2 linked regions of the Homo sapiens genome follow. The main gene of each other region encodes a partner of the protein of the gene in region 2 in a complex. Each region holds a gene or a part of one and is shown on either strand. Other genes may lie near its edges.

What was found.
Region 1: DPF1 (region 2) and ARID1B share a complex: the UniProt entries of both Homo sapiens proteins name them as parts of the neuron-specific chromatin remodeling complex.

What each region holds. Positions count from the first base shown.
Region 1 is NC_000006.12:156,772,524-156,780,377, reverse strand, and holds the start of ARID1B (AT-rich interactive domain-containing protein 1B), read right to left. Parts: upstream 3,001-7,854; 5' UTR 2,698-3,000; coding exon 907-2,697; intron 701-906; exon of another isoform or gene 647-700; intron 1-646. UniProt on the Homo sapiens protein: Involved in transcriptional activation and repression of select genes by chromatin remodeling (alteration of DNA-nucleosome topology).
Region 2 is NC_000019.10:38,214,221-38,221,550, forward strand, and holds part of DPF1 (zinc finger protein neuro-d4), read right to left. Parts: intron 4,839-7,330; coding exon 4,711-4,838; intron 4,443-4,710; coding exon 4,353-4,442; intron 3,657-4,352; coding exon 3,578-3,656; intron 3,372-3,577; coding exon 3,240-3,371; intron 2,184-3,239; coding exon 2,133-2,183; intron 2,040-2,132; coding exon 1,920-2,039; intron 1-1,919. UniProt on the Homo sapiens protein: May have an important role in developing neurons by participating in regulation of cell survival, possibly as a neurospecific transcription factor. Belongs to the neuron-specific chromatin remodeling complex (nBAF complex).

The DNA of each region.
Region 1 (7,854 bases), on a different chromosome or scaffold from region 2:
GGTGACAGCAAAATAAAGAAAATCCAAATAAATACGATCCCAAAAGATCAATTTTCACTGGTCTGCTATCTTACTGGATTTGCTGAATAAAATGCATGCCTAATCCATGATCAAAATAAGTTCAATTGATCCGGAACGTGCTCCTTTCACATAGCCTGCCTGTTGAAGGTGACTCCCTGCAAGCAGCCCGTAAGCCCAATAATGGATTTCCCTGGCTATTCTAAGGAACGAATCGATGTATTTTACAATATTGCACCTCCATGTCGTTGTAAATTTTGTTATTATTCCTACCAGCAAACGTTCGAGCTCGAAGCCCGCACCGAGTGTCTCTGAATGGCTCTCCCTAAGTAGGAAAAACCCACTCGCTTGTCACAAAGCTAACCTATTTTCCCTGCCTGGACCTCGGAAGCCAAGAGGGAACGTGCTGTGGCTAAAGGTGTGAGAAAGTTCCTCATTCTTTCCCCCGTTAAAGCACATTGTGGGCGCTCCCAGAACCGATCGGGTGGCTCTTCGCCCCAGCCGTCCTGGCCGGGAGAGCCTATTTGTTACAAAAGCACCCGAACGGTCCCCGCCGCCCCAAACGGCGACCGCGCGGGTGGCGCCTCGGGATCTCGCTTCGCGTTCCCGGGCCTGGGGGAGGGGGGGGACGCGGGTGCGGGCCGGCGGGGTAGAAGCCACCCGGCCCGGCCCGGCCCGGCGAAGCCCTCCCAGGCCTGGACAGCGCGCCGGCCCCCGGGGCGCCCCGACCGCGGCGGGAGGCGGCCGCCCGTCAAGATGGCTTTGGGCGCCGCGCCCCCGCCGCCCCCGCGGGAAGACGGGGAAAAGTACGCGGCAAAGAAAGAAACTCAGGCTCGCGGCGCGGCGAGGCCGCCGGGCGGAAGCAGGCCCGGCTGGCGCGAGGGTTACCTGGGATCTGCCCATGGTCGGTCCGGGGGTGCCGGGGCTCATCGCCGGGTGACTCCTTTGTTGCGCGGCCGCCCAGGCCGGGCTGGCAGCGGCGTACTGGGCGCCCATGTCCTTGCCCAAGCCCATGCCCGCGGCCGCCTGCTGGCCGCCCGCCGCCGCCCCCGCCGCCGCCGCCTGGGACTGGGGCTGCGACGGCGGCGGCGGCGGCGCGCTGGGGCTGCTGTACTCGGGGTAGCTGCCGCCGTAGCTCCGCATCATGGGGCTGGGCGAGGTGAGCAGCTGATTGAGGGTCGGGGTGGCCCCCGACGGGTGCTGGTTCTGGCCGGCGAAGCGCTGGAAGCCCCCCGCCGCCGAGCCGGCGGCCGCCTTGCTGAGGCTCGCGGCCCCGCCGCCCCCGGGGCCCATCATCATGCCGCCGCCCTGCTGCCGGGGGGAGCTCAGCACCCCGTACCCCGCGGACGAGCCCCCATAGCCGCCGCCGCCGCCGCCTCCTGCTGCTGCCGCCGCCGCCGCGGCCGCCGCCGCCACAGCTCCCGCTCCTGCTCCTCCTGCTCCTGCTCCTCCTCCTCCTCCTCCTCCTCCGCTGCCTCCTCCTCCTCCGCCGCCGCCGCCGCCGCCGCCGCCCGCGCCGGGCCGGCTGTAGCCCGGATAATGGTTGCACTGGCTGTTGGGGTACCCTTCGTGGGAGTTCTGCAGGGGGTCCATGCTGCCGGGGGCCCCGGCGGCGGCGGCGGAGGCGGAGTGCATCATCCCCATCCCGGGGCTTTGTTGTCCGCCATGTTGATCAAAGCAAGGCCCAGCGCGGCCGCCGGGGCCGCCGCTCGCAGGGGCAGCGCTGCCATAGTAATTATTAAACTCCGGGACGGCCGCCGGGCCGCCGCCGCCCCCGGGCACGGCGACCGGCGGCTGCTGCGTGCCCAGGGCGCCCAAGCCCGGGTGCTCGTAGCGGCCGCCCGCCGGCTCCCCCATCTTGGGCGGCGCGTCGTCCTCGTCGCCCGGCTTGCTCAGCAGCGGCGGGCCCGGGGGGTCGGCCTGGCCGCCCGCAGCACTGTCCTTGGCGCCTCCATGTTGCGGCTGCTCCATGTCGGGGCCGGGCTGAGGCGCGCCGCCGCCCGCGCCGCCCAAGCTGTTGTTGTTGGAAATGGGATGTTGCTGTTGCTGCTGCTGCTGCTGCTGCTGTTGCTGCTGCTGCTGCTGCTGCTGGAACTGGTTTAGCTGCTGCTGTAGTGCGTGGTGGTGGTGGAGGTGGTGGGCATGGTGGTGGTGGTGGTGGGCATGGTGGTGGTGGTGGTGCTGCTGGTGGGGCGGCGCGGCGGGGGCTTCGCCAACGGTTTTCAGTTTGTGGTTGGGGAGCAGCCCCGTCTCCATGGCCGAGCCCGGGCCCGACGAGGAGGAAGAGGATGCCGCCGCTGCCGCCGCGGAGGAGGAGGAGGAGGAGGACAGCGCGGCGGCGCTTCCACCCTCCTTGAGAGCCGCCTCGGAGCCGCCGCTCTTGGCGCTGTGGGTGCCGGCGGCGGCCGCGGCGCCCGCGTTATGGGCCATGTTGAGTTCGTGACGGGGGAGCAGGGGGTGGTGGTGCACACTGTTCAGGCCGCCGCCGCCGTCGCCGCCGCCCCCCAGCATGGGTCCCGGTGCCGCCGCCGCCGCCGCCGCGCCGCGCGCCCCCGCCTCCAGGTCCCGGGCTCCGGGCGCCGGCCGCGGCCCGGGGGGCGCCCGCCGTTCGCCGCTGCCTGCCCGCGCCCGCGCCCGCGCCGCCGCCGCCGCCGCCGCCGCTGCTGCCCGCGCGGCCATGATCGCCGCGGCGTGGCGAGGCCGGGCGGGGGGCGGGGGGAGACAATAACCCCCACTTTTCAGGCCGCGGCCCCTCCTGTGCGCATCCACGCGGCCCGCCGGGAAGCCGCGACCCCCTCCCCCTCCGCAGGCCCCGCCGGAGCGCCGGGCCGGGCACGCCTTACGCTCTGGGCCTGCTCCTGCTGTGTGCTTTCATGGTGAAAGTTTTTAGTTCAGGTTTAAATGAAACTTTTCTCTTTTCCTCTCTAGCCCGGATATGGGTAAATACACGACTAGCTGAGCCTATCGGGCCCAGCATGGCTTGAGAGGCAGCGGGCGAGCTCGAGCAACTATTATCCACTTCGCTCGCATTACTCCCGCGCACTCGCAAAACGCGGACTGGACTCGTCCCCGGGCCGCCGCCGCCCGCCCCGGCGCAGCCTCGCGGGACCCAGCCGGGCTTGGGCTAAGGCTGGGGCCGGGGCCGGGGCCGGGGCGGCTCGGCGGCCGCTCGGAGCGCGGCGGCGTGGGGCGGCCGGAACCTGCACTTTCCCCCCGGGCCGCTGTCTCCTTGCCAACCGGGCGTTCGCATGTTTGTTTTCACGTCTAAAAGGAACGATACAAAGGTGGAAAACGAGTCTGACGAGCAGACAAAAGAGGGAGAAGGGCTGGGAAACAAAGTTGTCTATTGGCCTCAGAGGTTACAAGGAGCCGACGGAGAAAGAAAATATTTAGGCAATCTGCAAAAGCACGGTCTCTCCCAGGAGTTATGTAATTTTCAGAACGTTCGCCTCTGCCTTGATTTCGGGCCATCGGCGTAATTCCCACAACTTCTTCCAACTGCAAAATTAGGAAAGATTTGAAATGAAGGTTAGCCCCGGTCAGAGAGCCCTATGGCCTGTACCCAGTAGGTACTCAATAAATGCTTATGACTGACTGCACCCGCCCCAAAGAGAATGTTTACATAACTCTTTTTGAAGGCACCTTAAACACGTATGTAGGTTTGTCAGTGTATTTCCAAAGGAATATGTCCACGTATTCCCAAAGGAGCATTTTTCTTACATGCACTTGGATGTCCTCTGTGGAGTATGTACAGTGGTGTTTTCTGCGCCAACTTTCACATGAACATTTAACTCTTGGTGCCAGAACAGCGACAGCTATGGGTTAGCTCGTATCTTCATAAATCTATATGACACCTTTCATCATGTTTCAGAGCTTCGTGTGCACAGTTAACCCTCTCGATATACATTCATTTCAAAGAGATGTGGAACGAAACTAAAATATTATAGACATTATATTTAATAAATATAACTTCAATAATAATATAAAACAGTCAACTCTAGTCCTAATGTAGAAATGTTCCATACTTTGTTCTCTTAAAAATTGGTGTCTATTAACATTTTATAATGTTTTTAATATTTGCATTGTTATTAATGTTTTCAATATGTGCATTGTCCCCTAGTAACATTTTAAAAAGCAAGACTTCTTAACCTTAGGCAATGACCCACTTGTACTAGTGTGGACTCAGTTTTCATTGAGAGAAAGCATTTAAAACCTGGCAGAAACAATACTTACGGTTTTGGTAGAGTATAGTTTTCCAAAATTATTTCATTCTTCAGCTTTCCATAAAAACTATTTTAGTTCATTTCCACTGCAGCAGTGGTTATTTGTTTGACCAAGTGTAAATATGTTACATGACTAAATAGAAAAGGATTGATGGGAAAACTGGTGACTAATTGGGGTCGGGGGGAGGGAATCAGGTGCACACCCAAGGGTCATTATAGAGTGTAGAAACAACAAATTGCAATTCTACGCAAACAACTGGAAAACGGGATATATCATCGTGTGTTAGAGAGAATAACAGAACCATAAGATGAATTCGTGCCAAATCATTCATCAGTTTTTGCCAAGAGAATACTACATCTTTGTTAGTGTGCCTTTTTGACATTTTTTCCTGGATTTTCTCCCTTTATATATTCAAATACATACTAATTATACGCATTACACCACAGAAGTTGAATTTTTAGTTTTTCATATGCAAATATAAATATATGTCTGTTTTGTGTGTATATACATATATTCTAAAATCAATTACATATTTATGCTTTTAGACATAGTCAAACTAAGTATGTACACATCATCCTAAAAGTGCATTTTTTCAAATTGATAAAATATATCAAAGTCAGTTCATACAAGTGTAGCCATATGTTGTGGCTTATTTTCACAACTAATCCTAAAAGGGAAAATGAGTCACCAAGTTCAGCTATGGCCCTTTTCCTTAAAATATTTTTTCATATTGGCAAATCGTGAAACTAAAAAAAAATTAGTAGAGAAGTCAAAATCTCTTTTAATTCCATTTGCTTCAGCAAGTCAACTAGAAGATTGGAACTAAGAGACTATAAAATAGAGGCCCCCAGCACAATGAAATCAGTCTGCTATAAAAGGCGACACATGCCAGTTTTTCCTCCCCAATGGCAGATGCCACACCCTAAAGCAGACAGAAGGCACTGCAGCCTGTAGGAGAAGCACAACACAAAGCCGGCAGGACTTGGTTTTGTCTTTTAAACCACGGAGAATGCTAAAATACCTTTCTAAAGCATCTTTGCTGAAGATAAGAAGTGCACTCGAATTTGCTCAACTTTTCATACACACCTCAGGAAAACAAAATAAAAGCCTGTTTAGTTTCATTTAAACATCCAGGGCTTAACAAACAAAACACCAATTGTCAGGGGTCTGTTACAAAGTGATGAAATAGGTTCCCATTACACAAAAGCACAATTTCAACCACAGGTTCAAATTTCCATTGTGTTCCTTGCCTCAACTATCTCATATGGCAATTCTACCTTATTGTTTCTTTTTGATGAAATAAGGTACTAGAAATCACTGCGCTCATTTTTCCTAATGAATTCCTTAATTTTACACCTCTTGCCTAAATTTCAAACCACAATGACAACTTTAATAAGTTACCCTAACCACAAAGAAGCCATGAGGGGAAGGCCCGGAGGCTGCCCGCAGCCACCCTGGGTTCCAGCCGACCTCCCACCCACAGGGTGCTCCCCACGCCCTCATGTTTAGCCAGAGGATTACCCATTATTTTGTTAAACATTCCTTTTTGGTTACAAAAGACTTTTTTTTTTACTGTATGGAAATATTAATATTCAAATACTGCGCCTTTTGAATAAGTTTTAGGGCACTGAATAAAAGGCTCTTCAACTTGGCCACTTAAAGGGGATTGAGCCAGATGGTAGTTTAAGAATTCCACAGTTCTGTTCTTTTTGCCTCATCGTAGCCCATCATACTCTGTTTGCTTTCAGATTAGTCCCCTTTTACTGTTCTACTTATTTATTCGATGACTGAAACTATCACGATTCACTGCCCATCATATTTCTAACTATTCTTTATGTAATTTGGAAGCAATTTAGAATAAAGCCCTGTCAAGGTTTTACAAATAAGAACTATTAAAGAATAAAGCTTTGGATACTTGCTTTCCTTTTAGATTTATGAGAAATGCGATGAATAGAGCTAATGGGATTTCCCTACTGATCTTGGTCAGGGACTTAAGAAAGCACGAAACAATTGTCCTTTTCACTTCTCCGATTTAGACGTTAGCAGTGAATAACTGCGTCACTGCAAGATATGGGATGTAGCATTTGATTTGAAACAACTGTGCAAATCAATTAGGTAGGATTTGAAAAAAAAAAAGAAGCCTAGGCAAAAAAAATAGTTCAAATTTGGGAACTATGGCAGACGGTAGCACTAATAAACTTACTAAGAAAATTATTGTGGGGATAATAAACCTGGATGGAGATACACTGCATGTAGTCATTCAACAAATTTACCTAGAGTCTACCTTGTGCCATGCCTTGAAAATGAAAGATAATTACCTTGGTCCTGTCCTTCATAGGGGAGATAAACAATTAACAATCACTCATACCTACTAAGGTCTGCCCCTCAATGTCACATGGGATTTGGCCAGTAAAGAAGCAAGCTCAGACCTTCCCCATCCCGCAGCATTTCCTGCAGCGGAGGCTTGCTGGCTGCCATTAGCGGGCAGCTGACCCTAATCCTCCCGCTGACACAACTCCGACTTGACACCTGGAACCCACCACTGTGGAGTCTGGACTTCCAGAACCTTAAGTTTAACATCAGGCTACTACAGTTTCTCTCCAAATTCCTTAGAAACATAGTAACACCAGTGAAATACATTAAGAAACACCTTACTACATTTTAATACATTGTACTTTTTATTTTATCCTGGACTGTCCGCTTTTGAATGACTTTATCACAGCCTCATTTATAAATTTCTTGTAACTTTTAGACAAATGTGTGTTCAATGGCTGCTTTTATTTCCAGTACTGTCCTCAATCATTTTGCCATTAGTGAAAATCACTTACTGAGCACCTACCAGTGTTTTTCAGTATTCTACATCACATCATGTAGTCATCTTTGTGGCCGTTCTTAGTGATAACATGCTGCCTGGCTGGCTAAAGGTCCTGCATAGGTAACTCCACTCTAGTTCCTCAAAATAAATATTTGGGTAGTAAGCATATATAATCAGGTATACAAATAAGTCACTTGGCAGTTGAATCACCTCAGTTTTCTAGAAAAGTTTCAGGAACTTACCTGAAGGCCTTCTAGGTCTCTCACAGATAATGATTAATTGCTTTATAGTACAGGTAAACTTTGAGAATAAGACTATGTTTCAAAAACAGTAAGTCCCAAATAACAATAACTCGTGCATTAATGGAGCGCATTCCTCGTTTTTAGTTCACCTTGCTTATACCTGATGACTTGGTTTCTAATTCATTATGCGAGTCAGTGAGCACCTTTAAGGGTTTATGACAGTCATCTAATTGTCTTGGTCAGGGCCAAAGGACTTGGTTATATGCTTTTCATACCAAAATGACATAATTTCATTGAGGAATCTGCTTATTAACCCATTCCCCTAAAAATGCCCAAGTTAAATATAAAGAATTTTTTTCTCTCTCTAACTTGAAGTTACATTGCAACATGTAACTCTAAGACTTAAATTTCAGTGAGCTCTCCCTGGCATCTTCTTGGGCCCTCAGGTGACACCTGTGTCAAGCTGTACTCTGTGTAGTATAGGTGACCCTCTTTCTCAAGGACCGGACATGCCAAAAGGTTTCCCTGCCAAAGCATAACCCACAAGGAGCATCT
Region 2 (7,330 bases):
TCATGCAACTGAAGTCCATTCCACTTGGTGCCCCAGCAACAAAACTGTTACTCACATCACAGCACTGTGCAGCGCCAGGCTTAGTCATTCCACAGCCCCGCTGCAGAGACACCCGCAGCCGCTACCTGCAGCCACGACCCATGGCGCCCGCCCCCTGCAACCACGGCCCCGGTGCCATCACAACTACATTCCATTATACTGAGTTGCCATGACAACCATATTTCACTACCCATGATGCCACGACAACCACAATTCATGACCTACTGTGCTGAGGCAACCAGAGTCTATATTGCCCACAAGCCCACCATGGGAAACCACATTCTGTTAACCACAACTCTATGGCGAGCTCATCCTGCTACCGGTGCCCAGGTGGTGGTGTCCGTCACTCACACCACACAGCCCACTACCTGCCATGCCTTGGCCCCTGTCTCTTGCTACTCCTTTTGTCTTGTTTTGGTTTTTGAAACAAGGTCTCACTCTGTTGCCCAGGCTGCAGCATAGTGGCACCATCACAGTGCACTCTGCAGCCTTGACCTCCCAGGCTCCAGCGATCCTCCCACCTCAGCCTCCCGAGTAGCTGGGACTAATGGGGTGCGAAACTATGCCCAGCCTTTTTTTTTTTTTTTTTTTTTTGAGACGGAGTCTTGCTCTGATACCCAGGGTGGAGTGCAGTGGTGCAATCTTGGCTCATGGCAACCTCTGAGCCCCGGGTTCAAGCGATTCTCCTGCCTCAGCCTCCGGAGTAGCTGGAACTACAGGCACGCACCACCACACCCAGCTAAATTTTGTATTTTTATAGAGATGGGGTTTCACCATGTTGGCCAGGATGGTCTTGATCTCTTGACCTCATGATCTGCTCGCCCCAGCCTCCCAAAGTGCTGGGATTACAGATGTGAGCCACATCACCCAGCCTGGCCTATTTTTTTTTTAATAGATGGGCTCTCATTATGTTGCCCTGGCTAGTCAAAAACTCCCAGATTCAAGGGGCTGGGTGCTGCGGTGGCTCACGCCTGTAATCCCAGCACTTTGGGAGGTCAAGGCAGGCAGATCACCTGAGGTCAGGAGTTTGAGACCAGCCTGGCCAACATGGTGAAACCCCCGTCTCTACTAAAAATATTAAAAATTAGCCAGGCATGGTGGCGGGTGCCTGTAATCCTAGCTACTCGGGAGGCTGAAGCACAAGAATCACTTGAACCCAGGAGGCGGAGGTTGCAGTGAGCCAAGATCATGCCAATGCACTCCAGCCTGGGTGACAGAGGGAGACTCTGTCTCAAAAAACAAAACAAAACAAAACAAAACAAAAACCTTCTGGGCTCAAGCGAGCCTCCCACTTCAGCCTCCCGAGTAGCTGGGGCTAATGGGGTGCAACACCATGCCCAGCTAACTTTTTTTATATATAGATGGGATCTCACTATGTTGCCCAGGCTGGTCTCAAACTCCTGGGCTCAAGGGAGCCTCCGGCCTCAGCCTCCTGAGTTGCTGGGATTACAGGTGCACAACAACACACCTGGATAATTTTTAAATTTTTTGTAGAGATGGGGGTCTTGCTATGTTGCTCAGGCTGGTCTCAAATTCCTGGCCTCAAGTGATCCTCCCACCTCTGCCTCCCAAAGTGCTGGGATTACAGGCGTGAGCCACCACACCTGGCCTCTCACTACTCTTGATGCCATGCTAAGCACAGGCAGCTACCCACAGTGCCATGAGAGCCACATCCCATTATCCCTAAAGCCTCACTGATCCGACCCAATTCCCACAATCCTCAGCAGTTGCATCAGCCTCGCTAGCTCTGGTTATCCACAGTATCCCCTACATGCTCCGGGTCCCCTCGGTCCTCACCGCCTTGCCTCCCTCCCTCCAGGTCTGCACTCCTGAATGTCCTCTGCACCCGGCCCCCAGAAACCTCAGGTGGGGAGCATCACCTGATCGCCCACAGTCCGCACAGGAGATGAGGTCCTCGGGACACCCCGTCTTCTTGGAGCCCCCCAGGCAGAAGTCACAGTAGCCGTTGGGGATGACAGTGCCGTCGGGCGCCTTCTTGGCTGCAAGACAGCAGACAGGCATTGGCACGGGGCAGGCAAGGGCACCCCGCAAAGGTGGCTGCAGACTTTAGGAGCAGAAGGAGGCATCCGTACCTGTGTGTTTCCTTTGTGCCTCAGGGACCCAGGCCAATTCTTTGTAAAACTCTGGGGTAGGGGGGACAGAGAGAGGGACTCTCACCACAGGCAAGGCTCCACCCTGCCCCCAGCCTCAGCCCCAAGGATGGACCTCTTAGTCCAGGCGTGGGGAGCTGGGAAGAGTGAGTAGCTACCCCAAGCTGTGGGGAGAGGTGAAAACAGTTCTCATCGGGACTCCCAACTCTGCCTTTTTAAATTTTTTTTTCAATTAAAAATAAAGGCAGGGTCTTGGTATGTTGCCCAGGCTGGTCTCCAACTCCTGGCCTCCAGTGATCCTCCCACCTCGGCCACTGCCACAAAGTGGCGGGATTATAAGCGTGAGCCACTGCACCCAGCCAGGATTCCCAACTCCTTGAGACAACTGACATGTCCTCTTTATTGGGTCAAAACTTGGTAGACAGCTTGAGGAAGGGCTCCCTGCCTCCCTTCTCACATACATGTCTCCCAGCCAGCCACTCCCAACTGCACCCTCAGTAATTTGTATCTAACAAATTCAGCGAGTACCCCAGCCAAGATCTGGTATGGAAACAGACACTCGGAAGAAAAACTCCGAACACTGAGGTGCGTGGGTGTGTAGTGGCCAGGGGTGAAGACACTCAGCCTCTGCCTCTGAGAGATAGGTGGGAAGACAGTGTCTCCCTACTGCCTCTCCCAAACCCTCCTCCCCTCCCCCATCCTTCAGCTGTCAGAACTGGCATGGGATTGGCAAGGGCGGAAGCCAAGGGCTCCCAGGCCACAGACCCTGCCCCTTGACCAAAGCTTAGCAGAGAAAGGAGAAAGGGAAGGCAGGGCGGGAGGGGAGCCATCTATCACCCCCCCTCCCCAAGCTCTAATTGAAACAATAAATCAGACCCAGAAATATTACGCCCGGCCAGGAGCGAAGGAGCGATGGTTGGTTGCCATGGCAACCCCGGAGCCAGCATCCCCATGGTCGGTGGGGGGAGGGAACGGCTGAGCTGGAGATTTTCCAGAAATGTCTAATGCCCCCCCACCCCCACCCCCAGCTGGGCTCCTCTTCCCCACTCCCAGGGCCCCTGGCCACCCCCACCTGGCCTGCCAGCTCACGTTTATGGTTGTTTTTCCGGTGGAAGGGCAGGGCGTGGCGTTCGGCGTTCTCCTCCCCCTCCTCCTCGGCCAGGTGGGTGTGGGTGTAGTGGTAGCTGAGCCCCGGCCGGTTCTTATACCGTTTCCCACAGACTGGGGAGCGAGCGAGCCAGGAGGGCCTGTCAGCCCCTCCGGGCCCCTGCCGCCTCCACCCTGGCCTCCAGGATCACACCTCCCCCCTCAGCCAGAGACCTGAGCAGCCTCCCAACCCGGGTCTGGAACGGGAGGGAGAGGGCCACGAGGTGGGGAGTCTCTGGGCACCCCTCTCTCTGCCTTTCCCCCTCTTCAGAAGGACTCACTATCACAGACATACGGCTTGTCTCGGTCCTCCAGGGAAGCGGTGTCCTGGCGTTTCCGGAGACCCCCGATGCCATATGCCTGTGGGGAGAGTCAGGAGTGAGGGGCCAAGAAAGTGAGAAAACAGGCCAGGCGTGGTGGCTCACACCTGTAATCCCAGCACTTTGGGAGGCCGAGGCAGGCGGATCACGAGGTCAAGAGATCGAGACCACCTTGGCCAACATGGTGAAGCCCCGTCTCTACTAAAAATAGAAAAATTAGCTGGGCATGGTGGCGCGTGCCTGTAGTCCCAGCTACTCGGGAGGCTGAGGCAGGAGAATCGCTTGAACCCGGGAGGCGGAGGTTGCAGTGAGCAGATATTGCGCCACTGCACTCTAGCCTGTGACAGAGCGAGACTCCGTCTCAAAAAAAAGAAAAAAAAGAAAAAAGAAAGTGAGAAAACAGTGTCTTTTGCAAATTCAAATTGCAGCTGTACAAATGTCCTAGCTGTGGGGCCTTGAACCTCTCCAAGGTTCAGCTTCTTCCTCTGTGGCATGGGGATGAAGGTAGCTCTAACCCACTGCATAATCTCTGCTTTGCAAATGGCTTAATACAGATGAGCCTCAGTTTCCTCATCTGTAAAATGGGTATAAAATCCCCCACCCCTGCAGGCCGCTCTGGGGATTCAATGAGGTCAGACTGAGGTCAGACTGTGGCAGGGGCGGACCACTGCACCTGCTCCATGAATGAGACCTGTCATTGAGGGGAGCGGGGAAGAGGAGAAGCTTGGGGTGATACCTTTCCTTTGGCCCTGTTCTTCCTCCTGGGAATGTCATCCTCCAAGTCTTCCACCTCGAGGTCATGCGGAAACTCCAGCAACTGCTGTTTCTGGGCAATAGAGAAAGGAGACGGGTCAAGAAAGTGGGGGCCACTGACCTGCTTTTGAGGGGCTCTGGGCAAAGGTGGAGATTGGGGGTGAGAGTATAAGTCAGGAGTTCTTCCAAATAGAGATGAAGTCTGGGAGGATGGTGACTGGGATGCCCAACAGCCAGAAGAAACCGGGGGGGTTTCAGAGCAGGAACGTGAGGGCCCGGGCTGGTGGCAGGCAGGGGTGAGACGAAGCCATGCAGCGGGGGTCCCCCAGAGGTGGGCCCACCTGACAGTCCATAATGGTCTCCTCCTCCTTCAGCTCAATCTTCTTCTCCCCCGTCTCTGCACACAGTAGAGCCTCGAGGACCGGCCCTTCCGGGAGGCCACCCTCCTTCTTCAGGGGTGCTTCACAGTCTGGGGACAGGGCCATGGGGGGGTCAGATGGGGAAGTTGACCCCGGAGGACTCCTCAAACTATGCAGGTGGGGGGACCATGCTCTTTGCAGGAGGGAAGAGGCTGCAGAGGCAAGGATTTAACCACATGCCCTAGGAGGGAGGCCCAGACTCTGGGGAGACCCAGTCACGCCCTCAGATGCCCTGGGATGCACAGCAGGAGACACGGTCAGAACTTTGGATACACCAGAAAGCCTCAGAAAAAGACACAGTTAGGCCATCAGGCACACCCAGACCTACTCAGGGAAGACACAGCGACTCTCAAACATACCCAGACAAATATGGACAGATCCAGACACTCGCAGAGGAGACACAGGGACACCCGCAGGGGACATCCAGACAGATCGTCTGAGACAGATGCGGGAAGGAAGAGGCCCAGCCATGCTGTCTTTTTTCTTTTTTTTTTGAGACAGGGTCTCGCTCTGTCACCCAGGTTGGAGTGCAGTGGCGCAATCTCAGCTCACTGCGACTCCCAGGCTCAAGTGATCCTCCCACCTCAGCCTCCTGAGTAGCTGGGACTACAGGCAGAGTAGCTGGCATGCTACCACACTGGGCTAATTTTTGTATTTTTGGTAGAGATGGGGTTTCATCGTGTTAATCAGGCTGGTCTCAAACTCCTGAGTTCAAGCGATCCTCTGCCTCGGCCTTCCAAAGTGCTGGAATTACAGGCATAAGCCACACTCTCAGATACAGCCTAGAGACTCAAAGAGGTATAGCCAGATCCTTGGAGACACCCAGACACAGGGAGGAGACATAGCTGGACCCATGGGTACACTCAGAAATGCTCAGAGACAATTAGCTGGCCAGGCGCGTTGGCTCACACCTGTAATCCCAACACTTTAGGAGGCTGAGGCGGGTGGATCACTTGAGGTCAGGAGTTTGAGACCAGCCTGGCCAACATGGTAAAACCTCATCTCTACTTAAAAAAAAAAAAATACAAAAATTAGCCGGGTGTAGGGGCACATGCCTGTAATCCCAGCTACTCAGGAGGTTGAGGCAGAGAATCACTTGAACCCGGGATGCGGAGGTTGCAGTGAGCCGAGATCGTGCCACTGCACTCCAAACTGGGTGAAAAAAAAAAAGAAAGGAAGAAGGAAGGAAGGAGGGAAAGAAAAGAAAAAGAAAGAGAGAGAAAGAAAGAAAGAAGGAAGGAAAGAAAGAAAGAAAGGAAGGAAGGAAAGAAAAGAAAAAGAGAGAGAGAGAAAGAAAGAGAAAGAAAGAAAGAAAGAGAAAGAAAGAAAGAGGCCGGGTGCGGTGGCTCACGCCTGTAATCCCAGCACTTTGGGAGGCCGAGGCGGGCAGATCATGAGGTCAGGAGATCGAGACCATCCTGGCTAACACGGTGAAACCCCGTCTCTACTAAAAATACAAAAAATTAGCTGGGCGTAGTGGCAGGCGCCTGTAGTCCCAGCTACTCGGGAGGCTGAGGCAGGAGAATGGCGTGAACCCAGGAGGCGGAGCTTGCAGTGAGATCGCGCCACTGCACTCCAGCCTGGGCGACAGAGCAAGACTCCGTCTCAAAAAAAAAAAAGAAAAAGAAAAAGAAAAAAGAAAAAAAGAAAGAAACAATTAGCCCTCCAGATACACCTAGACCCTGGGGAAGACACAGCCAGATGAGATGCTTGGACACATAGCGGGGAGATACCGACATACTCAGGGAGAATCACTCAGCTAGATACACACAAACACACACAGGAGACAGACAGGAAGAGACACAGCCAGGTGGGCACTGCCACGCTCCTGGGTACACACAGACCCTCGGACTCAGGAAGAGAAACTGACCCCGAGGATCCCGATATTCCTAAACACATTCAAGGGTAAGTCCAGATCCTCTGATGGACTGGCACACACGTGCAGAAATACACCTGATACGCCAGACACCATCAGGAAGATTCTCCCAGACACTCCGAGGCACCCACACACCCACAGAAAGAGACGGCCGCACCGCCTAACACACCCAGACACACTCGGGAGGAGCCGGACACCCTGACAGACCAGACATACACAAGACACAAGCCTTCTAAGACACTTGGAGACACCTGGGAAGATACACCTAAGAGAGGAAAGAGCTCCAACCAGACACTGAGACATCCAGACGCCCTTGGGGAGATACAGAGGCAGACACCCTCAGGCACCCACAGAAAAAAATACAGGCAGATGGCCGGGCATGGTGACTCAAGCCTGTAATCCCAGCACTCTGGGAGGCCAAGGCAGGTGGATCACCTGAGGTCAGGAGTTCGAGACCAGCCTGGCCAACATGGTGAAACCCTGTCTCTACTAAAAATACAAAAAAATTAGCCGGGCATGTCAGTGTGCATCTGTAATCCCAGCTACTCAGGAGGCTGAGACAGGAGAATCGCTTGAACCCACTAGGCGGAGGTTGCAGTGAGCTGAGATTGCGCCACTGTACTCCAGCCTGGGTGACAGAGCCAGACTCCATCTCAAAAAAAAAAA